Homo sapiens: one gene and its partners. The protein of the gene in region 6 interacts with the protein of the main gene of each other region in a pairwise test. Each region holds a gene or a part of one and is shown on either strand. Other genes may lie near its edges.

Region 1 (3,982 bases), on a different chromosome or scaffold from region 6:
CCCCCTCAAGACAGCTCCATAACACAGGGAAGCAGGGAAATGTCATCTCCTTCACTCTACTGATCAAACATTGCTACAAGTGCCAGGTCCACTACCAGATTCCACTAGATAGACAACCAAAAGGCAAGAAGAGAGCCACGCTGGCTGCCTGGGCAGAAGGGGCCTGGCCTTAGACATGACCAGGGAACACAAAGGAGGCAGGAGCAGCCAGTCGCCCCTGCCAAATCAGCAGGAGAAGCAGAAAGTCAATGCAGGCATGCCTGCTGCTGGTGGAACCAGGGCCTGGCCCAAACCTTCTGAAGCACAAACAGCATTGGGCCCAGGCAGTTACTAAAACTCCCCATCCTGCTATAAGGAACTATAGCTCTGTGGAAAAATGGCCGATTCCAGGACTGAGACACGGAGAAAACAAGAAAAGATGAGCCTGAACACATACCTGAACCAGAAAGCAAGAAAGTGCTCACAGAATGATGGGGCGGCATCTAAAGGTGCCTGGAGCGCCCCCAACTGGCCACACATGGCACAGTCTGGGCATTAAGGAATAATGAGCCATGCGCTTGGGATTAGTAAACTACATACATCTTACAGCTCAATAAAAAATTTTAAAAAGACAATCGCCCAGACATTTAGGGGAAGAAGTAATGCCAATTCTACACAAACTCTTCTGGAAAACTGAAGAGGAGAGAACACTTCGAAACTCATCCTATAAGGCTGGCAAAAACCCTGATACCCAAACCAGATATTACATGAAAACTATAGACCACAGTTTATCATGAACATAGACCAAAAAATTCTTAAGATTTTAGCAAATCAAATCCAGCATACATAAAAAGGATACTACAGCACGACCCAGTAGGATGGAATTCAAGTGACTGTAATTCACTGTAGTAATAGAAAATGATTCACCACGTGATCATCTCAAGAGCTGCCGAAAAGGGAACTGCCAAAATCCAACATCCATTCTTGATAAAAACACACCAATCCTGGAGCAGATGGACACTGCCTGCCTTCTGGGGAAGGGGGCCTTGCACTGCTAGGAGAAATTTTTGCCACATTAAACCTGCTTCTAATCAGGCTTCTACCAGCAGTCCAGTGTACAGGAAACCCAGAGAGTGGAGAAGCAGGTTAAATGCAAGAGGAAGCATTTCGTCTGATAGATCAAGAGCAGGGCATTCTATAAAATTAGAATGCCCTGGACTCTACAAAAAAGTCAATGCCACAATAAATGTTGGGGACTGTTTCAGAAGCAAAGAGACCAAAGTAACCAATTGTAGTACATGAACTTGGACTGGATCCTTACTTATAAAGCAACAATTTGCCACAAGTTAGGTACCATGATGTGGCCGTGCACTGAAAGTCAGGAGACACCCGGAACAGTTAATTTCTCAGGGGGCTACCTTCTGCAGCTGTGTAGGAGACCAGTTTTGTTCTAGAGCACTTGCTCCCAATCCAAGGCCAAGGTTGACCCCACCACCCAGGTTGTCTGGAGGCATTCTTGGTTTTCAGGACTAGGGAGGGTACCCCTGCCATCCTGCAATGCGCAAGACAGCATCTCACCAAAAAGACTTACCCAGCCACAAATGTCAGCATGGCTGGGTTGAAAATCCTGGTCTCCAGGAATGCTGAAGACTCTTGGTGAATGCTATGCTGTCACATGTATATATTTTGGGATGTCAAGAACTAGAGCAAAACGTTAACTATTGAACTTTAGTGAAGAGCACAAGCGTATGCACTATACTATCTTTTCAGCTTTTCTAAATGTTTTAACTTCTAAAATAAGAAGTTTGGGAAAAATAACAAAGGTGGAAACTGATGGTGCAGGGGGACCTGCCCTATATAATTTGCAGGAAAGGGCTCCCAAGCCCACCAAGCAGGCCTGGCTCAAGTGGGAAGCTCTTCGGGTTTGGGAGGGCGCCACAGGAGACAGTGCTTAGGAATTTGATGTGCAACTGGAATGAGGCCCTGCGAGGCCTGAGAGGGAACTGACCCTGAAAGACGCTTGCTGCACAACTGTCAACAGACTTCCAACTACTGAGGGGCAATGCTGCTGCAGTCAGCGCCACCACCAGAGTCTGCCTGCAGGCCAATCAGGCACCGAGGCCTAGGGCCATCCTGTCTGGAAGCGCGTGGGGCACAGGGAAGCCCGAACAGGGAGTTTCTGCTAAGAAGGTGGGTGCTGCGCAACTGAAAACAAAACTGGTTGGACCCACTGATCACCAAAAAGGCGCTGTCTCAGTCTCTGCGCCCGTTGATTTTGTCAATCTTAGAGACCTCTTCCGAACACTTCCAAGGAAGGAGCTGATCTGCACAGATACCAAGAGCTGCCCGGAGGCGCCGACCCGGAGGAGGCGGCACCTCATCCCGCTGCCCCCGCGCACCTCGGTGCTCGTTCTGTAGGCGCAGGCGCTGGTTGTACAGGCTCTTTTCGGTGAGGTGCTGGATCTCCAGTAGCCCCTGCACGATTTCGAACACGGTGCCGTCGAGAAGCGCCAGGGCCAGGTCGCTGAGCGTGGTGTAGGACAGGCGCTGCTGGAAAGAGCTGCGGGTAGGGGGGCGCGGTGAGCCCCGGCGGGAAACGAAGCCGCCTCCGCAGGCCTCCGCCCGCCCCGCCTGCGTACCTGGGCAACTCCTTCACCAGGCTCTGTAGCGCCGACAGCAACTGGTAGTGTCGCTCCTGCTGCCGGGCACCGTCCGCCACCTCCTCCAAGGCGGCCGCGTAGCGCTCCATGGCGCGGACGCCCGCTAGCCGCCGGCGGCGGCGACGAGCTCCCCCAGCTTCACGACATCCCGAGCGCGGCGCGTCCCGCCCCTTTTACGATTGTCCCACGCGCGGCGCGCTCCGCCCCCTTTTACGACAGTCCCGAGAGGGCCTGGCCGCCTGCCCCGCCCTGCCCCGCGCCCCGCCGCCTGCTTATTCAGGAGGCGCGCCCCGCTCCTCTGCGGAGACTCCAAGGAGGGTTTTGCTCAGCCCAGGCTCGCACCTGCCTGCTCCCCGCGCGACATTAAAGGCGAGACTCCGCCGTCTGGATATCGCAGGACCACGGAGAATCCCACCGGCCCTTGCTGAGTCATTGCGGGCCGAGGTCCGGGCTCCGCGCCGGCGCGCCTGCGAGGTGGACTGTCCCGGTCACCGGCCTCCCCAGAGGCAGGGGTCTCGGGCCAGAGCCCACAGGACCTGGGTCTAAGGCACCATCCGCGGCCGAGCAGTGGCGCTGGGGTCTGTCTGCGTCCTCCCCGCCCCCGGGGTGAGACAGACAGGACCGCCCTAGAGCCTCTGGGTCAGGACAGTCGGAGCCAGAGTCCCCATCTGGGCCTCCGTGGCCCCCAGCCCGTGAGCCCAGACTGCGCTCTCCCCGCTCCACAGGCCAGCTGCTGGGCCGGGGCTGGGGGGCTTCTGGTGGCTGGGGCTGAACCGTCTAGGAACAGGCTTTAATAGGAGGGGCTCGGGTGGAGGAATGGCTCCTGCAAAGGCCCTGCCAGAGTCAGGTCAGGTGGGTGGGCGAGAGGACCAGTGTGGCCAGGCTGCGGAAGCCAGCACAGGAGACAAGGGCGGGTGCTGTGCATTACAGAGGCTGCTGGGGGCTTGTCCATAGAGCAGCAGGGGGCACGGAAGGGCTTGGGGACGCAGACACGATCAGACTTGCATTTCATCAGGCACTCTTTAGCTGCCTGCTGGGTGGCTGGGCTGTGTGAGATGACCCTGCTTTGACCAGGTTAGGAATTATGACTGGTTTCCAGAGAGAACATTGGTTAGTAATTGGCTATGGGGAAGAGGGGGCGTTGAGCCAACCAACTGGGGTCCCCCTGAAGTGCCAGCAAAGTGTCTGGTTTTCTCCAGGATCTGTTTCCTCAGTCCCTGGCAGGATTGGCTCCCCTGCACGCCATGTCCTTGTGGTCCCTTCCAGACAGAAACCAGGCATGAATAAAGTGAATAATGACAAGCGCTCAGGCCACTGCCGTGGAGGGCGGTCCACAACCCAGA
Region 2 (3,500 bases), on a different chromosome or scaffold from region 6:
ATTAGCTGGGCATAGTGGGAGGGTCACTTGAGCCTGGCGGGTGGAGGTCGCAGTGAGCTGTTATCACGCCACTGCACTCCAGCCTGGGTTACAGAGCAAGATTCTGTCTCAAAAGAAGGAAAAGAGGAGAGGGGAGGAGAGAGGAGAGAGGAGAGAGGAGACAGGGGAGAGGGGAGAGGAGGTGAGAGAAGAAAAGGAGGGAAAGAAGGAAGGAGGGAGGGAAGGAAGGGAAGGAGTAGGGCCGGGAGAGGTGGCTCACGCCTGTAATTCCAGCACTTTGGGAGGCCAAGGCAGGAAGATCACTTGAGGTCAGGAGTTTGAGACCAGCCTGGCCAACACAGCGAAACCCCGTCTTTGCCTGTAATCCCAGCTATTCAGAAGGCTGAGGTACAAGAATCACCTGAATCTGGGAGGCAGCGGCTGCAGTGAGCTGAGATGGCACCACTGCACTCCAGCGTAGGCGACAGAATGAGACTGTCTCCAAAAAAACAAAAAGAAAGAAATGAGTAGAATTCAGCATTGCCTATACAACTACTTCAAGCATCCCATATTCAAAACCCATTCCCTGCCCCAACACCAAATCCAAAACTTCCTCCTGCTCCTCAACATTGTCTATTTGAGTTAATCATGACCTCAAATCACCAACTTACTTTTTACCATAAATATTTAATTTAAACATCTACTAAATGCCAGATACAAGATAGTAAAATATAAATTAGGTGTGAAGGTAGCCTAGCTTGATAAAGTACTGTATTTCACCTGAAGGGGTCAAGGAAGGCTTCTAGAAAAGATGACATACTGACTGAATTTTGAAAGGTGAGGTGGTGCACAGAGGGTGAGGGTTGGCAACACACAGAATGACAGGCACATTCATTCCATCCTTGGTGCCAATGCCCTAGTGCAGAACCTCATTATGTACTATAGTAATTCAGGCAGTAATAATCTCCCAACTATTCTTCCTTCTTCCTGTCTCAGCAAGCCTCTAATCTAGCGTCCACTACCAAAATGATTATTAGAAAGGGAAGAAAAAAGGAAAGGAGGGGGTAAACCTAAATCTAACCATTTAAAATCTTTCACTGACTCTAGAGTAAGGATGAGTCCAAATTCCCCACACACCATTATCTGTCCCCTTTTTACATTAGACCTCATCTCCAGCCTGTCCTCACTGCAGCCACCTGAAACATATGTTTCCTGGCTCTTCTATGCCCCTGCACCTTTACTCATGCTACTCTTTCACGGTTCAGCTCAAGGTTACATGCTCTTTCAAGTATTCCCCATTACTCCCAGGTTGAGGTGGGGTCCCTCCCTCTAGGCTCTTACCTGCACCCCCATGACACCCTGGCTATTGCTCATGGTACAATATAAACTCACAATTTTGTCTTGTCTCTTTCTTCCCCAGAGTATGTACTTTTTTTTTTTTTTTTTTTTGAAACAGAGCCTCTCATTGTCACCCGGGCTGGAGTGCAGCGGCACAATATTGGCTCACTGCAACCTCCACCTCCTGAGTTCAAGCGTTTCTCCTGCCTCAGCCTCCTGAGTAGCTGGGATTACAGGCACCCGCCACCACATCTAGCTAATTTTTTGTCTTTTTTAGTAGAGACAGGGTTCCACCATGTTGGCCTGGCCTGACCTCGTGATTCGCCAGCCTCGGCCTCCCAAAGTGCTGAGATTACAGGCATGAGCCGCCACGCCTGGCCAACTATGTACTTCTTAAAAAAGGAGGGTTATAGCTTGTTTTATCTCTGTCCCCTACAAGCAGCACAATGCCTGGCAGACAGCAGACCAACACACGTTAAGCAACCTGAGCATTCTATGCTAAACCCATCAGATGAAGATCCATTAGGACGTTAATGGGGATGTCTGAAGTGATCAACCACCTAACAAGAAGAGGCATCAACTGAACCTAGGATAGGCTTCACCCACTACAAGTTCCAGTTATTTACTTGACCAAGCACCTGTACCCAGACTAGGAAACTTTTTAACTACACTTTTTAAGCTATTATTAAATGTGGTTACACAGCATTATAAAGGTAATAGCCATCAAAATCACAAATGTAATTGCTCAAACTTTTACCCAGCAACTGCACTTCTAGAAATCTATTCAACAGAAATATTCTCATAGGTACTCAAAGATGTATACACAATGCTTTCACTGAAGAACTGGAATACAAAAAAAAAACCCTAATTAAAAAGATCAAGCCATATAACAAGTATGATCCCATTAAACATATATATATACACATATATATACACACACATATATACACACACACACACACACACACACACACACACACACACACACGGATAGGCTAGGCCCCATGGCTCATGCCTGTAATACCAGCTACTCTAGAAGTCAAGGTGGGAGGACTGCTTGAGCCCAGGAATTCAAGACCAGCCTAGACAACATAGCAAGATACCATCTCAAGAAAACTTTTTTTTCTGAAGGATGTCTATATATCAAACTATTAATGGTGTTAATCCTACTTCTATGCTAGCACTGAATTCAAATTTCCTACCACTCTTTAGCTGACAAAAGACAGAGGAAAAAAAAATCATACTTTTTATCATATCTCTTTCCAACAAGCCCTAATGGTTGGTGTAAGTGCTCCTGAACAATCCTAAAATCAGCGACTTCTGGAAGATTTTAAGAATTCTAAAGGAGGCCGGGCGCGGTGGCTCATGCCTGTAATACCAGCACTTTGGGAGGCCGAGACGGGTGGATCACAAGGTCAGGAGATCGAGACCATCCTGGCTAACACAGTGAAACCCCGTCTCTACTAAAATGCAAAAAAAAAAAAAAATTAGCTGAGCATGATGGCGGGCACCTGTAGTTCCAGCTACTCGGGAGGCTGAGGCAGGAGAATGGCATGAACCCAGGAGGCAGAGCTTGCAGTGAGCTGAGATCCCGCCACTGCACCTCCAGCCTGGGGCACAGAGCGAGACTGTGTCTCAAAAAAAAAAAAAAAGAATTCTAAAGGAAACAGGTTATTCTGGGAGGGTCCATGGCCAAATTCCTGAGTTCCCACTGAAACCTACCTTATACCTTTAGAGAAAAGTCAATTAATGACTTTTAAAAGTACATTTTTCCAATGCCAATAAAATGTTAAGTCAATACTAATATCCATTTTTCATTCTCTTGGGAGGCAAGGGGTAAGGAGTAAATCACTAAGTGCAAAAAAATACAGTCCAATTTTTTGGAGACATGCTTAAGGTCTTCAAAGAGCTTCAGTTCTCCATGGTAACATATGGAGAGTTTAATGAAACTTTCCTGACAGTTCAACTTATCAGACTGGTATTTCTTTTTTCTTTTTTTTGAGACGAAGTCTCTCTCTGTCGCCCAGGCTGGAGTGCAGTGGTGCGATCTCGGCTCACTACAACCTCCGCCTCCAGGTTCAAGCAATTCTCCTGCCTCAGCCTCTTGAGTAGCTGGGACTACAGGCATGCGCCACCATGTCCAGCTAATTTTTGCTGTTTTTTTTTTTAGTAGAGACAGGGTT
Region 3 (3,500 bases), on a different chromosome or scaffold from region 6:
TTTTTAGTAGAGATGGGGTTTCATCATGTTGGCCAGGCTGGTCTTGAACTCCTGACCTCAGGTGATCTGCCCCACTCGACCTCTCAAAGTGCTGGGATTTCAGGTGTGAGCCACTGCATCCAGCCTGGGATGTATCTTAAACCAAGGATACAAGAAACCAGAGGAAGGAACTAATTAAAATCAGAGGACGGCAGGGCATGGTGGCTCATGCCTGTAATCCCAGCACTTTGGGAAGCTGAGGCGGGTGGATCACCTGAAGTCAGAAATTCAAGACTAGCCTGGCCAACATGGTGAAACCATGTCTTTACAAAAATGCAAAAATTACCCGAGCATGATGGCAGGTGCTTGTAATCCCAGCTACTTGGGAGGCTGAGGTGGAAGAATTGCTTGAACCCAAGAGGCGGAGGTTGCAGTTAGCTGAGATCGCGCCACTGCACTCCAGCCTGGGCAACAGAGCAAGACTCCATCTCAAAACAACAACAACAACAACAACAAAAAAATCAGAGGGCACTGGATTTTAGATGTTGTTACCATAAATGGAAGGCAAATCGCCTGAAACTGGGGATGTTCCTGAGAGTTTGGCTGATCACAACAGTGATAAAAGGGGAACTGTTGCATTTTACATTTCCATAGGCTACATGGCTGGATATGGCTTAGTTGGGGAGGAAGGAACATGAACCAACCAGAGAAAAGCCTAGAATCCTGGGGAAAAGTGACATTTAGAAAGGTGTACTCCACAGCCCTTACCTCCACTTCATCCCCTTCTGTGATCTCCTTATTATAGTCAGCTGGAGGTGGTAGCCGGACATCCCCAAAAGGAATTTGTCTCTCACTCTGCCAGCTATAATAGAAACAATAATATGAAAAAGCTACTCTGACTGATATGGTTGCCCATTTCTTTACAAAAGGGTTATTGCCTCAGCTGGGCGAGTTCCACCTATCTGGATAATTAGAGGCTAAACCCCAGGCCCTGCTCCATAGTAGTGTCTTCCATCTCTTTCTAGACTCTAAATACTGGGTCAAATGCCCCCACCCTCACCAAATTCTCAGCCCTTTCCTCTCCTGGGATCCATATGAGTTCCCACCCAAACCCTCAGCTCTCCCAACCTATTACATGCCTCATAGGACTCAGCTGCCCCCTCTTCTCCACTCTCCTTCTAGGACCTAGTATGCTGGATTCTCTATTCCCAAGGTCTTACTTGTTTTCAAAGAAGATGGTGACAGAGTCTTCATGGACATCCTTCACAAAGCCCTAGAATGGATTTTAGAAAAAAGCAAAAAAAATAAAATGACCTTTTACTTCCACCTTAGCCATCAAGGGAATAAGACACCACAAAACCTTAAACTTGAGTTTTAGATAGGGACACAAGTGGTGTAATGAGACAGCCTGAAAGGCTGCACTGGGGAAAGAATATGGGCAGTCAAACAGAGAAAGGAAATGATATTGTCATGGAGAGGTGTATGTACCACCTGCATCAGAACAGCCTGGAAACCAATGATCTACTCAGGCTCCCACAGGGGCCTCCCTATCTGTCTGCCTCCTGTTGTGCTAAGCAGCCTGCCAGAGTTCAATTAAAATACCAACAACATTCAGCAAGGCTAAGAATATCCCATGAGACAGTGTGAGGCTGTCCTGGAACACCTAGAGGACATGAGGATCTGTCGAGAGAGAAGGGCCTACCTCCGCAATACAGCAAGAGATCTGAGCAGACTCGCTGCCCTGATGCATGGGTCCTAAGACAATAATCGGAACACTAGACAAGTTCAAAATTGTGATGAACACAATTTACAGAAGGAAAAATTAAGACTTAATTTAAAAACATCGGTTTTTTAATACTAGAATTGAATCTAGAATGACACTGATAATTTATAAAGGATAATAAAATTTATGGAAGACTCCAATCTTGATATTTTGACAAGAGCAAGAGGGATGACTGAACAGCTGATCCACCTCCTGTGGTCTGTGTCCTCACTAAGGAGGCCAAAGCCATGCATTCACCCCTATGCTCCCAATTTTTCTACCTTCTCCCTATTTTTCACATACAATTAGGGATTTCTAATTTTGAAAAAGGTCTAGCTTATGAATTTATTATTTTATCAACTGTGCTTTTGGTTTCATATCTAAGAAATCTTTGCCCAGGCCAGGCACAGTGGCTCACGCCTATAATCCCAGCACTTTGGGAGGACGAGGCAGGCAGATCACCTGAGGTCAGGAGTTCGAGACCAGCCTGCCAACATGGTGAAACCCCGTCTCTACTAAAAATACAAAAATTAGCCAGGTGTGGTGGTGCATGTCTGTAATCCCAGCTATTTGGGAGGCTGAGGAAAGAGAATCACTTGAACCTGAGAGTCAGAGGTTGCAGTGAGCCAAGATCATGCCATTGCACTCCAGCCTGGGCAACAAGAGCAAAACTCCATCTCAAAAAAAAAAAAAAGAAAAAGAAAAAGAAATCTTTGCCTAATCCAAGGCCACAAAGGTTTTCTCTTATGTCTTCTTCTTAAACTTTTAGTTTTTTGTTTTACATTTACATCTATAATCCTTTATTTTTAGACAGAGTCTCACTCTGTCACCCAGGCTGGAGTGTAATGGCGCAATCTTGGCCCACTGCAACCTCCACCCCCCGGGTTCAAGCAATTCTCCTGCCTCAGCCTCACGAGTAGCTGAGATTACAGGCAACCGCCACCACACCAGGCTAATTTTTTATATTTTTAGTAGAGACGGGGTTTCACCATCTTGGCCAGGTTGGTCTCGAACTCCTGACCTCAGGTGATCCATCTGCCTCAGCCTCCCAAAGCTGGAATTAAAGATGTGAGCCACTGTGCCCAGCCTATGATCCATTTTGAATTAAATTTTATATATAAGGTGAGGTATTGATCAATGTTTTTTAAATTTTTAAATTCTTATTTATTTTTTTGAGACAGAGTTTCGCTCTTGTTGCCCACGCTGGAGTGCAATGGTGCAACCTTGGCTCACCGCAACCTCCGCCTCCCAGGTTCAAGCAATTCTGCCTCAGCCTCCCAAGTAGCTGGGATTACAGGCATGGGCCACGACCCTGGCTAATTCTGTATTTTTAAGAGAGACAGGGTTTCTCCATGTTCGTCAGACTGGTCTCAAACTCCCGACCTCTGGTGATCCACCCGCCTCAGCCTCCCAAAGTGCTGGGATTACAGGTATGAACCATCGCACCAGGCCACTTTTTTTTATTTTTAATATATTTTTAAATTAAAATTTTTTTTTAATAGAGACAGGGTTTCGCTATGTTGCCCAGGCTGGTCTTGAACTCCTGGACTCAAGCAATGCACCCGCCTTAGCCTCCAAGAATGTTGGAATTACAGGTGTGACCACTGTGCCCAGCCCATTTTTTACCTAAAGATATCTTGTTCCAGCACTGTCTGTTGAAGACTATCCTTTCTGGCCAGGGGCGGTAGCACACGCCTGTAATCCCAACACTGGGAGGCCGAGGCTGGCAGATCAGCTGAGGCCATGAGTTCGAGACTAG
Region 4 (3,500 bases), on a different chromosome or scaffold from region 6:
CTGCCCAGGTCATCAGCAGTCCAGGCATGACACAGTTTCTCCAACAAGGGAGAAATGAGAGGGGTTGGGTAGGAAGTAAAGCCCCATCAAGGAGGCGCTGGTTCCTGGGGAGGGGAGGAGGGAGACTCCTCCCCCATTTCCCTGCACGTCTGAGGGCAGGGGGTTAAGGAAGGGCTCCCTTAAATGCCCAGGCAGTCTACACAGGCACAGGCAGAAAGGGGCTCCAGACGTCCATTGGGCTAAATCGCCAAGGTCCAGAGAGGGGAAGGGATCAGCCACGGGTCCACAGCAAGCAGGGGCCGAGCTGAGTCTAGAACCTGGTCCACATGGAGTCCACTTCACAGCCTGTGGCCTCTTGGTGGGCCCAGGTGGGTCTGGAAGGGGACACACTTGGGTCAGGGACAGGGAAGGTGCTGCAAAGACGCAATGTGGTTGGGCTTTGTCTGGCTGTGGTGGTGGCCAGAGGGAAGGGAGGGAGAGCTGAGAGTAAGGGTCCCTGTCCTTTGAATCTCTGCCATCAGGGGCTCTGCTCCCAAGCTCCAGGCCCTCCCGGATGTAACACAGAGTGTCTATGATCTGTCTTCTCCACTGGGCTGCACCCTGGTGTCCAGCATTCAGTGGTGATCAGAAATTGCACAGAATGAATGAACACACGCCTGCGTTCCAACAGGACCCACCTTCTTGTCCCACGCTTGGCAGCTGCCGACCCCACCAGCCCCCGCACTTGAGAGGTTTTGGGTTTGGGTTCTTTGCATGAATGATGTGATATGTCAACAGTCACCCCTCCGAAAACCACGTTTCCTTTTGTTTTGTAGGAAGCACCTCGTGCCCTGGCACATCCTGTTGACTTCCCATGGGCTACCTGTGGAGTGGGACCCGTGTTCGGGAAGGCGGCTGGCATTGGCGGGCAGAGGTGGCAACCATGACAACTGGGCTGCCTTGGGCGGCGAGCGTACCACACACCAGCGCTGCCCTGAGCTCGTCAGACATGCTTCCTCACTGACTCCTCCAGCGTCCCTGTTGTCATCATGCCCCCTTTACAGATGAGGAAACTGAGGTCCTGAGAGGCCCATGGCTGGCCTGCAGCCACACAGCTAGTGAGCGAGGGGTGTGTCCTCTGAAACCCCGGCTTGGTGCCCTTGGCTGCATGGCAGCCCTGGAGAAGGGACCAAATCCCCTCTGCAGCCATGTGGGTTTACGCCAGGCTCAGGCTCCTGCAAGGCAGGGGCTGCGGTGGCACATCTGTGTGACCAGGGACCAGACCAGGCTGTGCTCAGCATGCTCACCTGTGGGTTCCTTCACTCGGGGAGAAGGGCACATGAGGTGGGGAGGGGGCAATGGGTGATCAGGACAAACATTCCTCAGGGCTGGGTAAGTGGCAGCAAGCTGACCATTACTTAAACATTTAAACAATGTTTTCGAGGGATATTTTTTGACCTATAATAGTTAGTGGTAAGGACACCTCCTGCCTCCAGCCTTGACTCCCTCACCCACTGTGGCCGGGGGCCACCAGAGCAGGCACTCACAACTCACACCCAGCCATGGCCCCCCGACTTGCAGCCACTTCAGGGGCTCCCCTTTTGTTCTGAGTGTGTATCTGGCTCTGCTGCCATGTCCAGCCTTCTGTCTCCCCAACCTCCCATAATCCACGGTGCTGCGGTGCCTGGAAGAAGGCTCACTTCGGCCTTCCAGATTCTGGGATGGTGCCCTGCCCTCTGTGAGGCCTGCCCAGGAAGCGGGTTTCCCTGGGGCTCCTGGCCCACCAGTCAATCTGCATCACCCTGGAAGGTCACCATCTGCTTCCTACCTGCTTCCCCACCAGCCTGGAAGTCCCCAAGAGCAGGGCCAAGGCCTGAGAACACAGGGCAGCGTGTGGCAGAAAAAACTGCTAATCTGAAATTCTGCAGCTGTGGCTTCGGCGGGCAGCCCTGCCACCAGCAGTCCCACTTTGCTGGAAACTGCCGAGCAAATCCAGTATGTTTCATGGGGGGCCGGGTGCGGTGGCTCCCGCCTGTAATCCCAGCACTTTGGGAGGCTGAGGTGGATGGATCACCTGAGGTCAGGAGGTTGAGACCAGGCTGGTCAACATGGTGAAACGCTGTCTCTACTAAAAATATGAAAATTAGCTGGGTGTGGTGGTGGGTGCCTGTAATCCCAGGAGACTGAGACAGGAGAACTGCTTGAACCGAGAAGGTGGGGATTGCAGTGAGCAGAGATTGTGCCACTGCACTCCAGCCTGGGCAACAAGAGCAAAACTCTGTCTCAAAAAAAAACAAAAGAAATAAAAAATAAAAATCAGGTGTGGTGGCATGCGCCTGTGGTCCCAGCTACTCGGGAGACTGAGGCGGGAGGATTGCTTGAGCCCAGGAGTTTGAGGCTGCAGTGAGCTATGATCATGCCACTGCACTACAGTCCAGGCAACAGAGTTTGCCTCTAAAATAAAAAAAAAACCCACCACCACCACCACCACCACCACTACCAACAAAACCAAAGAAAAAGGCTGAGAGGAGAGATGGAAAGAGGATGAGAAAGAGAAAAACAGGGAGACAGACATAGAGACAGAGGCAGAGCCAGACAGGCTGCAGTCTGGATGTGGTCCCCACAATGAACTCCTCCCCTAGCCAAGCCTGGTCCATAGGCCACTGCGAGGCAGGGTCAGGGCTGCCCTGTGGGGAAGGACTTCTATGCCGGGTACTGCCATGTACAAGCAGGAGGGGCGTGCAGCAAGGAGGAAAGGCTGTAGGCAGCGACCCCAAGGGCTGGGCAGAGCGATGAGGCGGGCCGCTCCTGCCTGGCCAGGAGAAAACTCACTAGCCGCTGCCCCTAGAAAGCTATCGTCTGTTAACTTAGCAGGGGCTGCGGATTCCTGGCACCCAAGGGCTGTGATGGACATGATGTGGCCCAGCCGCGGCCCCAGAACCTCCCCGAGGAGGCAAAGCTCCCGCTCGGCCCAGGGTGCTCACCTTCAAGAGGCCGATCTCCTTGACACAGTCCTGCCTCGCCTTGGCGTCCATCATCTCAAAGATCTTGGGCGGGAGGAAAAAGAGAAATAGAGTGGTTACAATCTGTGTCCAGTGACCCAAAGGAGGCCACGGGGTCTGCTTTCCAGTCCCGGCTCTCCCACCTCCTCACCAAGGGACTCTGTGACCCCCCCCTGCACTCCCAGCCCCTGTAGGGCTTGCTCACTGTGGGTCCCCCCAGCACTGTCCCACCACAAAACCCATCGTGGCACTAAAGAACCAAGACAGAGAGCCCAGGTGAGCCCCTCCCCAGAAGATGGAGAGGGCGGGCCAGGCACAGTGGCTCACACCTGTAATCCCAGCGAGGCTGAGGTGGGTGGATCACTTGAGGTCAGGAGTTCGAGACCAGCCTGGCCAACATGGTGAAACCCCGTCTCTACTAAAAATATAAAAATTAGCTGGGTGTGGTGGTGCACGCCTGTAGTCCCAGCTACTCAAGAGACCTAGGCAGGAGAATCGCTTGAACCCGGGAGGCAGAGG
Region 5 (3,500 bases), on a different chromosome or scaffold from region 6:
AACGACTCACACTTGTAATCCCAGCACTTTGGGAGGGCAAGGTGGGTGGATTGCTTGAGCCCAGAAGTTCAAGACCAGCCTGGGCAACATGGCAAAACTCCATTTCTACTAAAAATAAAAAAATTAAAAAAAATTAGCTGGGTGTGGTGGCTTGTGCCTATAGTCCCAGCTACTCAGGAGCCTGGGGTGGGAGGAACACCTCAGCTTGGGAGGTTGAGGCTACCTACAGTGAGCTGTGATCACACCACTGCACTCCAGCCTGGGCGACAGAGTGAGACCCTGCCTTAAAAAAAAAAAAAAATTCTTTGCTGGCTAATGATGAAAAGGGGAAAGAGTTCTGGAAAGATGTCAAAAGAACATGTTTGTAAACAAACACGGATGAAATCTTAGGTAAGAAGAAAAAACCTCTAAGAAACATGCCTTGATAAGTCATAGGCAGGATGCAGTGAATCATCTTGCTACTATACACAGGTGTGGGATATACAAAGGTCATATTCATAGGCGCATCAGCAATGGCACTTTCCAAACTTTCTCAAGTGACAAAAAAGCCTTCACAGTAAGCTGACTAGCAGCTATTGAATTCAAAAACTTAGCAAAACTTTTTATGCTTTATGTCTTTAACCATATGTAAAATACAAAATCTCACCCTATTTCTCCATTTGAAATTTCTTCAGACACTTTCTAAGCATACCATCTTTCCAGGCCTTTTAGCATTGTGTAGTCAAAGATGAATAAGACACACTCTCTACCCTGATATCATAATTTAAGAGAGAAAAAAGACACACTGAGAAATAACTAGATACAGGATGAGGATTAAATAATAAAAGCATGAACAAAATGTTGATAAAACAGAAATGGAAGCACGTGTGGAAATCACAAAAGGGGTGGCATGAACTTTAATGGATGAATGGAAGTCTATCAGGTCAAAAAAGAAACAAGAAAAGACATCAAGGCAAAGTGAATAATATAAACAAAGACATGAAGGCATAAAATCTATGTTAGGTTTGAGAAACAAGGACAAGTTCAATGTGGCTGAAGCATGAGTACTGGGGTGAGGTGGTGAGGGCAGGAAATGAGACTTTGGGAGAATCATTTAATTAACATTATTATTCCTATGAGAAAATATGCAGAACAGAAACAAAAAGAAAAATCACCTTATGTCTTTGATAGTTGCTCGTTTCAGTGGGTCAACCTGCAGCATATGCATCAGGAGAGTGGCGACAGAACGATTGAGATATTCTGGGATATAAAAGACACCCCCTCGGATCTTCTTAAATAACGTAGGTACATGCTCATCATCAAATGGGAGGGTGCCACAAAGAAGAGCATACAAGATAACACCACAGCTCCAGATATCAACTTCAGGACCTGCATACAATCTAAGAAAAAAGATGACAACACAAACCTGAAATGCAAGAATCACTTTTTCTCTATGTACCCTACTTCTATATATAGGTAGTCTACATTCAGTACATATTCATTTCCAAGGTCTTTAATGAAGTCCATGGCTGCTCCCCAATATTCAGTGTTTGTTCCCCAAAGAGAGTAATGGGGCTAGCCAACTACTATTCAAGCCTGCCAAGTGAATAGGGTATTTTTATTTGTCACAAATTCATTTAACTGAAACATACGAATTAAAACATATAATACTTTCTGTGGTTGATTTTTGAGGGAAACAAAGTAGATGACCACAAACTTGAAAAAATACTATGGTGTATAGGTTAAATCTTTTTCCCAAAGAACTATTACAAGAAAGAAAACATATATATAATGTATACATATAATAGAATTTCTACCCCTGGCACACCTTTAAAGAATATTAAGGCTGGTCACGGTAGCTCACACCTGTAATCCTAGTACTTTGGGAGGCTGAGGCGGGCGGATTGCTTGAGGCTACGAGTTTGAGGCCAGCCTGGGCAACATGGTGAAACGCTGTTTCTACTAAAAATACAAAAAATAGCCAGGGATGGTGGTGCACATCTTAGTCCCAGCTACTCAGAAGGCTGAGGTGGGAGGATCATCTGAGCCCAGGAGGTGGTACAGTGAGCTGAGATTGTGCCACTGCACTCTAGCCTAGGTGACAGAGCGAGACTCTATCTCAAAACAAAAAATATATATATATATATATATAATATATCATATATATAGAGAGAGAGATATTTAAAACATTAAAGTACTTAATTAGTACTGTGTAGACAGTATTTATCCTGTATCACATTATCCTGAGTACTTACTATTTCTATTCTCATCACTTCCTAACTCATATGACTAAAATCATCTTTGATCCAGATAACCTATGCTTATAGTATTATTCCTTTTTTCTCTTACGTTTCTACAGCATTACAATTCCCATGATAGCATATTACCATACTCAAACCTGGGTCTGAGGTAACAAAGTAAATCTTTACTATTCTAATGAAAAGAATATAATCTGTTTATATAAAAAATGGTGATTGTTTACATCATTTGCTGTATTGTTCAAACTCCTTGCAATGGACTGAATGCTTATGTCCTCTCAAAATTCATGTGTTGAAATCCTAACCCCCAAGGAGATAGTATTAGGAGGTGGGGACTTAAGGGGGGTGATTAGGTCACTAGTGCAGAGTTCTCATGAATGGGATTAGTGCCCTTATAAGAGCGACCCCAGAGAGATCCCTTGTCCCTTTCACCATGTGAAGTTACAGTGAGCATACAGTAGTCTATTAGGAAGCAGACCCTCACCAGATACCAAATCTTGATCTTGGACTTCCCAGACTTCAGAACTGTGAGAAATACATTTCTGTTGTTTATAAGCTATCACCTTTATTGTATCTTTCTTATAGCAGCCCAAATGGACTAAGATAATTCTTTATCTGCTATTTGCAATAATACTTTAACCATATTTTCTCTTATAGGATTCTGTTAACTTTTAAAATCACACGTTGATCACTGTAGAAAGACTTGAGTTTACCACTGCAATCTGTATAAACATTTTTATAATGTACCAATGAATAAGTTATGAGTAACTACACAATCTCTACTTGTGTAATTTCATGAAACAATATTTTCCCCCAAAATCTCATTTTTCCAAACACAAAATATAAAACAATGCTCTATATACTTTGGAAAATATGCAAGGTATTATTAAAGAACTATATCTAATAAATAAATGACACTAGCTTAAATTTAGCAAATTCTTACTCTCTTATCTGCACTTTTGTAAAATGAAAGATATGTTAAATCAGGATCTACTTCAGTTATTTTTCTAATGGGGAAAACTTCGTAAGTATATTTATAATGACATCTAAATGAAATGTTTAACATTTTTTGATATAACCATTATCCCTTTAACAGTGGAAAAATAAATGAATAATCCATTTCTACCATGTTAAAATCTTACCTTCCATAGAGAATATATTGTAATTAAATGTTATCAAAATGAACACAAGATTACAAAAAGCTTATGCTTCACTGATTATTACCTGCCTGAGATGACTTCAGGTGCTGCATAATTTGGAGAT
Region 6 (3,500 bases):
CCTCCCGGGTTCAAGTGATTCTCCTGCCTCAGCCTCCCAAGTAGCTGGGATTACAGGCGCCTGCCACCACGCTCGGCTAATTTTTGTATTTTTAGTACAGACAGGGTTTCACCATGTTGGCCACGCTGGTCTCAAACTCCTGACCTCAGGTGATCTGCCCGCCCCGGCCTCCCAAAGTACTGGGATAACAGGCGTGAGCCACTGCACCCAGCCCCCATCAAAAGTAAATTTTAAAAATGTCAACATTATCAAAAAAACCATTCCATTTCACATATGAAAAAGAACAGCAAAAACAACAAACCTAAAGTTATAAGAGGGAGGAAATAATAATGATAGGAGCTATAAATAAATAAGAAAACATGTCATGAAATTTAAATAAATGTGCCAGGAGCTTGTTATTTGAAACAGCTAATTAAAACAGGCAAAACTGTCAAATACAAGGTTTTAAAATGTAGAAAAATGGGAGAAACTTAAGATGTGAGCTACAGCAGCACATTTTATTTTTTTATTTTTGAGAGACAGGGTTTCTCTTGTCACCCAGGTTGGGTTGCAGCGGCATGCTGTGCCTCACTGCAGCCTCGACTTCCCAGGCTCCAGAGATCCTCTCACCTCAGCCTCCCAAGAAGGTGGGAACTACAGACACATCCCACCATGCTCGGCTAATTTTGTTTTGTTTTGTTTTTGGTAGAAACGGGGTCCCACTATGTTGCCCAGGGTGGTCTTGAACTTCTGGGCTCAAGCGATCCTCCCGCCTCGGCCTCCCAAAGTGCTGGAATTACAGGCGTGAGCCACCGTGAGCGGCAGCAGATCTTTTATTGAACTTAATGTGCATTAAGTGCCTGCGTGTGTCAAACAATGTTTTAGATTTTTAAAAATAATCATAAAACATTCCATGCATGACTGATTGTAAAAACGACTATGCCCAGGGCAGTTTTGTTTAAAAATATTCCGCCGGGCGCGGTGGCTCACGCCTGTAATCCCAGCACTTTGGGAGGCCGAGGAGGACAGATCACGAGGTCAGGAGATGGAGACCATCCTGGCTAACACGATGAAACCCCGTCTCTACTAAAAATACAAAAAATTAGCCAGGCGTAGTAGCGGGCGCCTGTAGTCCCAGCTACTCGGGAGGCTGAAGCAGGAGAATGGCGTGAACCCGGGAGGCGGAGCTGGCAGTGAGCTGGGACTGTGCCACTGCACTCCAGCCTGGATGACAGAGCGAGACTCCGTCAAAAAAAAAAAAAAAAAAACCACCATATATATATATGTATTTTACAATGGACAAGTGAAAAAGTTGACTAAAAGTAGAGATGACCTTAAAATAACTATGAAAATCATCCCCTCCCCTGTTTAACACTGAGACCCAAGCGTTATGGATAAATTCTATTTTTACGTAGAAAAATGATGCTATGTTAGAGAAGCTGATTCATACACAGAACACATTCAAAACCACTTCACAAAATCATTCCCAAGCTATCATCCGATCTCCACTCCCAATGGAGACAGAGATAAAATTCTTGGCTCATGACAAGGACTCAGTAATGTGATAAAAGAATAATATACCAATTAGGGTTTATCACAGGGAGCGAAGGATTGTTCAATTTGAGACAATCTAAAAATAGCATCCACCCCATCAATAGCTTAGGGGAAAAAAATCATATGATCATTTAAAAATACCAAAAGGCATTTGAAAAAATTCACCACCACCCTCCTAAGACAAAATGGAAAAAAGGGAATGCAAAAATATTTCTCCAACATGCTGACAAGGATTCTAAAATAAGAGCTGGTATTAATATGATAATCAGCAGAGAAGTACTAGAGATGCACTCGAAAATCAGGAGCCAAACAAGCATGCCTGGCCGTGCCCCACCACGACGTTTTAGAACATGAGAGAAATGCCACAGGATAGACAGGGAAGCAAGAGGGGCACGTGTTAGAATGCAGAGACAACGGCACTCTTAATAACTGATGCTGCGGCTTGACGAAAGCAAACAGCACATACAAGAAAAGCATTCAAAACAACAACCGACAAGCTGCATTTCTACAAACAAAAACCACTTAGGAAATACGCAAGCAAAAGAAATGCCAATCACATCACACCTGTAATCCCAGCACTTTGGGAGGCCGAGGTGGGCGGATCACCTCAAGTCAGGACTTTGAGACCAGCCTGGCCAACATGGTGAAACCCCGTCTCTACTAAAACTACAAAAATTACCCAGGAGTGGTGGTGGGCGCCTGTAGTCCCAGCTACTCGGGAGGCTGAGGCAGGAGAATCACTCAAACCCAGGAGGCAGAGGTTGCAGTGAGGCGACATTGTATCACTGCACTCCAGCCTGGACAAGAGTGAGACTCTGTCTCAAAAAAAAAGAAAAAGAAAAAGAAAAAGAAAACAAAAAAAAAGGAAATGCCAATCACGGATGCAACAACCTATCATCACCACGACTGCCACAAAAAAACCACCAAAGACCACCCCTGACATCATACGCACATGACTTCCAAGAGCAAGATCTCTAAAACCGGTCTAACTTGTATCAGTAGACACTGATGGAGAACTCTCTTATGTTCCTGAAAAGTCTGACTGAAGACCAAGACGCAACCATGGATGTTACGAATGCCTCACAGCATGGCTAGGACGTGGGCCCCTTCTAAGGTGAGAAAACCGAGGCTCAAGGAGGTGGTTTCCATTTCCCAGGGTCATCTGTGAGCACATGGTGACCTCACACAGCCTGTTTGGAGCAGAGCTGGCATTGCCACCCTTGTCTGGGTGACTCGGAAGCCTGGGATCTTCCCATGCTACCTTCTAATCCACCGCCTATACCTTGATACTTGGGGATATCAAACGATATTCTACAAAGATTAATACTTGAAGGGAGCAGGTCTTACATGGTATTAAAATATACTCTAAAACAGCAAGACTCAAAACAGCATGATACTGGGACAGAAATGGAAATGTGGAATCGTGGAGGCCCAGAATGAGGCCCAACTATTGTTAGATATATGGCAAAACAGAGACTGTCTAATACATGGCGGTCACTAACTGAGAAGCATGGGAAAATTGCACAGAATGGGTTTTAATATCTGGCTGAGCGTACAGTAGGAGCGTATTGATACAAACCAGCAGGTGCCTTTGCTCCGAGCTTGGTCCTGCATGCTCAATAGCTCAGAGGCCTTACTTGGCTCAATCTCTGAAGGACTTCGTAATTCATAAGGTGGATGTCTCCATTTCACAGATGGAAAAACTGAGGCTCAGAAAGGGAAATAACCAGCTCAGATCCCTCAGCCAGGTCTGGCTGGCTTTATCAGCTAAGTTCCCCGGCCTCAACCGGCAGACAAGGCTGGGCTTTTCTGGACTCCCAAAGCTCAGGGTGCTGGTGGCTGCTGCCTCGAGCACCTGTGGGTCCCTCACCCTTGCATGCTCCCAGTTCCCTCACCGTGGGCCTGGACCAGTGTGCCCTATGGCTGCTCTCTGCTCCTGGATGACTGACTCTCCAGTTGCCTCCTGG
Region 7 (3,515 bases), on a different chromosome or scaffold from region 6:
GGGCAGGCCAGAGCCGAGGGGCCCCTGACGCTTCTCTGAGTGACCCTGAAGTCGGTGCTGCTTCAGCCCTGCTGCACTGGGCTTGCATACGTGGGGGAGCAGGGAGCCATACGTAGTTTCTGCTGAATGTGGGAGTCACCAGGACGTCAATGCCCACCTCTCACCTTCGCCACCCCTGCCTCCCTAAGTGTGTGCTCCAGGAGGTTGCACGGCCCCTGGAGAGGTTTTCGGTGGCGGGCTTGTTGCGTCTCTGGCTTCCAGAGACAGCAGGAATGAGAGCCAGGCCAGCTCAGTGGAGTCCATCCCGGTGGGTGCCACGGCTTTTGCAGGAATGGAAGCCCCGCCCCCAGGAGGGCCACTGCTGGCGAGGCTTGAGCTCTTTCTGTGACCCGATCCCCCTGGTCACACGCTTTGCTAAGGCGGGTAGCCTAGAGCTGGAAGCCCCTCCTGCCACCCAGCCACTGTGCCTCTCCCAGCTGATGGACGAGGAAGCCTCCATTACTTGATTTTTGTTTTTATTTATTTTTGAGACAGGGTCTCATTCTGTCACCCAGGCTGGAGTACCGTGGCACGATCATAGCTTATTGCAGCCTCGGCCTCCCAGTCTCAAGCGATCCTCCTGCCTCTGCCTCCAGAGAAGTAGGGACCACAGATGCGTGCTACCACGCCCAGCTAATTTTTGTATTTGTATTTTTTGGTAGAGATGGGGGTGTCACTATGTTGTCCAGGCTGGTCTCTAACTCTTGGGCTCAAGTGTTCCTCCCGCCTCGGCCTCCCAAAGTGCTGGATTACAGGCGTGAGCCACCACACCTGGCTGCATCCGTCATGTTAAGAAGACCCCGGCTGGCAAGCTCACTCGGGGACTGCAGGGAACCCTGCCCTTTGGGGGCAGTAGTGAGGGGTGCCCAGGAGGATGGGGTGGTCAGCAGGCAGTGATGCTGCTGTGTCCTGTCTCAGACCCCCCAGTTCCCTTCAGGATGATGGAGGATGCGGAGGCCCCGGGAGAGCAGCTCTACCAGCAAAGCCGGGCCTACGTGGCTGCCAACCAGCGGCTGCAGCAGGCGGGCAACGTGCTGAGGCAGAGGTGTGAGCTCCTGCAGCGAGCCGGCGAGGACCTGGAGCGGGAGGTGGCCCAGATGAAGCAGGCAGCATTACCGGCAGCCGAGGCTGCCTCCTCAGGCTGACCTCTCGGGGCCTGCAGGCTTGGGCAGCGCACAAGGTGGCCTGCACCCAGGCTTTCCCTGGGGGTCCGTCGGCCCCAGACTGGCATTCACGGGGTCCCAGCCCACGTGGGTGTTGACACAGGCGCCCCTCCTGATGCTGGGGCTGCGGTTCATCCGTCGTCTCATTCATGCCGAGTTGGTGGGACCCACCCAGCTGGCTCCGTCCTGCGTGACCTGAGGGCCCCACTGGGGTTCTGGAAGAGGATAGGGACATTATTGCTGTACTGTGATTCTGTCGTCAGCTCACAGTGGCCGTGCTCTGCAGTGGGGCCCCTGGGAGCAGGTGCCACCTCCTTCCTCTCCCGGGGCAGGCACTCGCCTGTCCACTTCTGAGTCCAGGTGTTGGGATCGAGGTGTTAACTGTGATTCCATCCAGCGAGTGCCCACCCAATGTCAGAGCAGCCCGAGGGCCAGCCTGAGCCCCTGACCCCACTTCCTTCTGGGCCCCGGGCTCCTCCCACAAGCCACGTTGATCTTCACAACGACCCTGGGCCGCTGGGGTCACCCAAGAGAAGCAGCCCTGAGACCCAGCCAGGCTGGGCCTAGCTCCACGGCACGGGTGTCTCCCAGCCACTGCCCTTGCTGGAGGACCGCTGTGAGTCACTGGCCAGGAGCCCAGGGTGTCCTGAGTCTCATAGCCACCCTGCCAGCTGCAGCAGGTCCTGGGCCTGCTTCCCTGCGGGTTCTGGCCCTGGGGGAGGGGGCGTTAGTGCGGCGGAGGGTCTTGCCAAAGGCTTTTCATCCTAAATAGCAACTTGAGTGGAAACCTGGGCAAGGCGGCCCAGAGGCTGGGCCCTGCACATAAAGCTTTCGTGTGTGTCTGGCCGTCTGAATGGTGCCTCTGTGAGCGGCTCCGTCCCGGGGCCCCGGAAGCTGGGGAGGGATGGGTACCGGCGACCCCGGGAACCCTGCTCAGTCCTGCCGGGCACTGCATGCAGGGACCGTCCGCCTGACCCAGAGACCTGGGGCTGCCTCACCCTCTCTCCAGACCCACAGCCAGCTTTGTTTCTTGAATGTGGAAGATGTTTCTTATTCCCTGAAGAAAGGGGGCCTGCCACACACAGCCTGGGAGGCGCCTCATCCAGAAACTGGGACTTGGCTAGCCCGGCCTGGGCCCTAGGGACTTCTCACTGGTCATGCTTCTGAAGCTGCTCACCTGGCCGAGGGAGGTCCCGGCAGTGTCCCAGGGTGGAAGGTGGGGAGGGGGCCGGCTCCTGCCATCCCTTCCCACCCTGCACTTCTGTGCTGCTTGCAGTCATAGCTTTCCTTGTCCCCCCAGCTGGGCCAGGGCTGTGCTCCCTGAAGTGGCTTTGACGTGGGGCCGTCCCAGCTCCCGCAGCCCCTGTCCACCATTGACTCTCCCCGGTAGTGGCTGCTGTGGCTGCCCCATCCCAGCTGTTGCACCAGCCACAGCTCCTAGTGGCTCATGGGTGCCTCCTGCCCCACACTGGGGCCTGCCATAATAACTGGCCCAGGTACCAATGCCCAGGTTGGACCCCCTGTCTGGGGTGCTGTGCACCCCCTGGAGCCTGCCCTCCCTTGGGACCAGGGGGAGACTCCTGGCCTCAGCCAGTGCCTCCCCGGCCCATCTGGGTGGGGTGCCCACAAACCCTGTGCCCCCAGTTTCTGCTTTCTGGCTCTGCTTCCAGGGATCTAACCTGGGGGGTCTCAGCAATTCTGTGGCAGCACATAGACAGCGATGAACCTACCCGCCCACAGCCCATTTTGAGGAAGAGGTGATGGCGGCAGGCAATGCAAGAGCTCAGTTTATTAAATGTGTGCGAGTCGGACAGCTGACGGTGTCGTCCTTACGCCGGACAGATGGCTTTACATTTAGGGAAGGACAGGCTTTCACTATTTACCACTATTTACACGTCCGTTTAACACTGCAGAGACCCGGTACAGAAACGTGGGGTGGCGGCTAGGGGAATCAGACAGACCAGGCGCGCGCCATCAGGGCTGGACCGGGGCAACAGATGGGGCCGGGTGAGGTAATGCTGTCGGAGCTCGGGAGGACCATGCCGGTGGGCACGGCGCCCCGAGTTCAGCACCCACGTGTGGTCATGTTGGGGGCCAGTGGCGGTCACTGTCCATCAGCCTCAGGACACCTCCACCCTCCCTGCGTCCTCAGACCCTCAGCTCCTTAGGACTGGCCCTGGAGCATTGGGGGGCAGACGAGGACCCCTTGTCACCCTGGTGCAGAGAGGCCAGGTGGCCAGGCAGGGGCCGCGGTGGGAGGGAGGCCTTGCAGTGGGCGTACCTTGAGTTGATTGTCCAGAGACCGCGGACTGC

The links.
Region 1: the proteins of NECAB2 (region 6) and DGCR6L interact in binary tests that used the Homo sapiens proteins (3 or more experiments, as listed by UniProt).
Region 2: the proteins of NECAB2 (region 6) and KANSL1 interact in binary tests that used the Homo sapiens proteins (3 or more experiments, as listed by UniProt).
Region 3: the proteins of NECAB2 (region 6) and FXR2 interact in a two-hybrid assay, tested with the Homo sapiens proteins (2 studies listed by BioGRID and IntAct).
Region 4: the proteins of NECAB2 (region 6) and NEK6 interact in binary tests that used the Homo sapiens proteins (3 or more experiments, as listed by UniProt).
Region 5: the proteins of NECAB2 (region 6) and PRKAA2 interact in binary tests that used the Homo sapiens proteins (3 or more experiments, as listed by UniProt).
Region 7: the proteins of NECAB2 (region 6) and C19orf25 interact in binary tests that used the Homo sapiens proteins (3 or more experiments, as listed by UniProt).

What each region holds. Positions count from the first base shown.
Region 1 is NC_000022.11:20,317,261-20,321,242, forward strand, and holds the start of DGCR6L (protein DGCR6L), read right to left. Parts: upstream 2,801-3,982; 5' UTR 2,729-2,800; coding exon 2,619-2,728; intron 2,540-2,618; coding exon 2,379-2,539; intron 1-2,378. UniProt on the Homo sapiens protein: May play a role in neural crest cell migration into the third and fourth pharyngeal pouches.
Region 2 is NC_000017.11:46,183,430-46,186,929, forward strand, and holds part of KANSL1 (KAT8 regulatory NSL complex subunit 1), read right to left. Parts: intron 1-3,500. UniProt on the Homo sapiens protein: Non-catalytic component of the NSL histone acetyltransferase complex, a multiprotein complex that mediates histone H4 acetylation at 'Lys-5'- and 'Lys-8' (H4K5ac and H4K8ac) at transcription start sites and promotes transcription initiation.
Region 3 is NC_000017.11:7,604,898-7,608,397, forward strand, and holds part of FXR2 (RNA-binding protein FXR2), read right to left. Parts: intron 1,253-3,500; coding exon 1,200-1,252; intron 842-1,199; coding exon 748-841; intron 1-747. UniProt on the Homo sapiens protein: mRNA-binding protein that acts as a regulator of mRNAs translation and/or stability, and which is required for adult hippocampal neurogenesis. Specifically binds to AU-rich elements (AREs) in the 3'-UTR of target mRNAs.
Region 4 is NC_000009.12:124,313,449-124,316,948, reverse strand, and holds part of NEK6 (serine/threonine-protein kinase Nek6), read right to left. Parts: intron 3,027-3,500; coding exon 2,964-3,026; intron 1-2,963. UniProt on the Homo sapiens protein: Protein kinase which plays an important role in mitotic cell cycle progression. Required for chromosome segregation at metaphase-anaphase transition, robust mitotic spindle formation and cytokinesis.
Region 5 is NC_000001.11:56,693,814-56,697,313, reverse strand, and holds part of PRKAA2 (5'-AMP-activated protein kinase catalytic subunit alpha-2), read right to left. Parts: coding exon 3,462-3,500; intron 1,380-3,461; coding exon 1,155-1,379; intron 1-1,154. UniProt on the Homo sapiens protein: Catalytic subunit of AMP-activated protein kinase (AMPK), an energy sensor protein kinase that plays a key role in regulating cellular energy metabolism.
Region 6 is NC_000016.10:83,981,744-83,985,243, reverse strand, and holds part of NECAB2 (N-terminal EF-hand calcium-binding protein 2), read right to left. Parts: intron 1-3,500. UniProt on the Homo sapiens protein: May act as a signaling scaffold protein that senses intracellular calcium.
Region 7 is NC_000019.10:1,472,701-1,476,215, reverse strand, and holds the end of C19orf25 (UPF0449 protein C19orf25), read left to right. Parts: intron 1-957; coding exon 958-1,184; 3' UTR 1,185-3,015; downstream 3,016-3,515.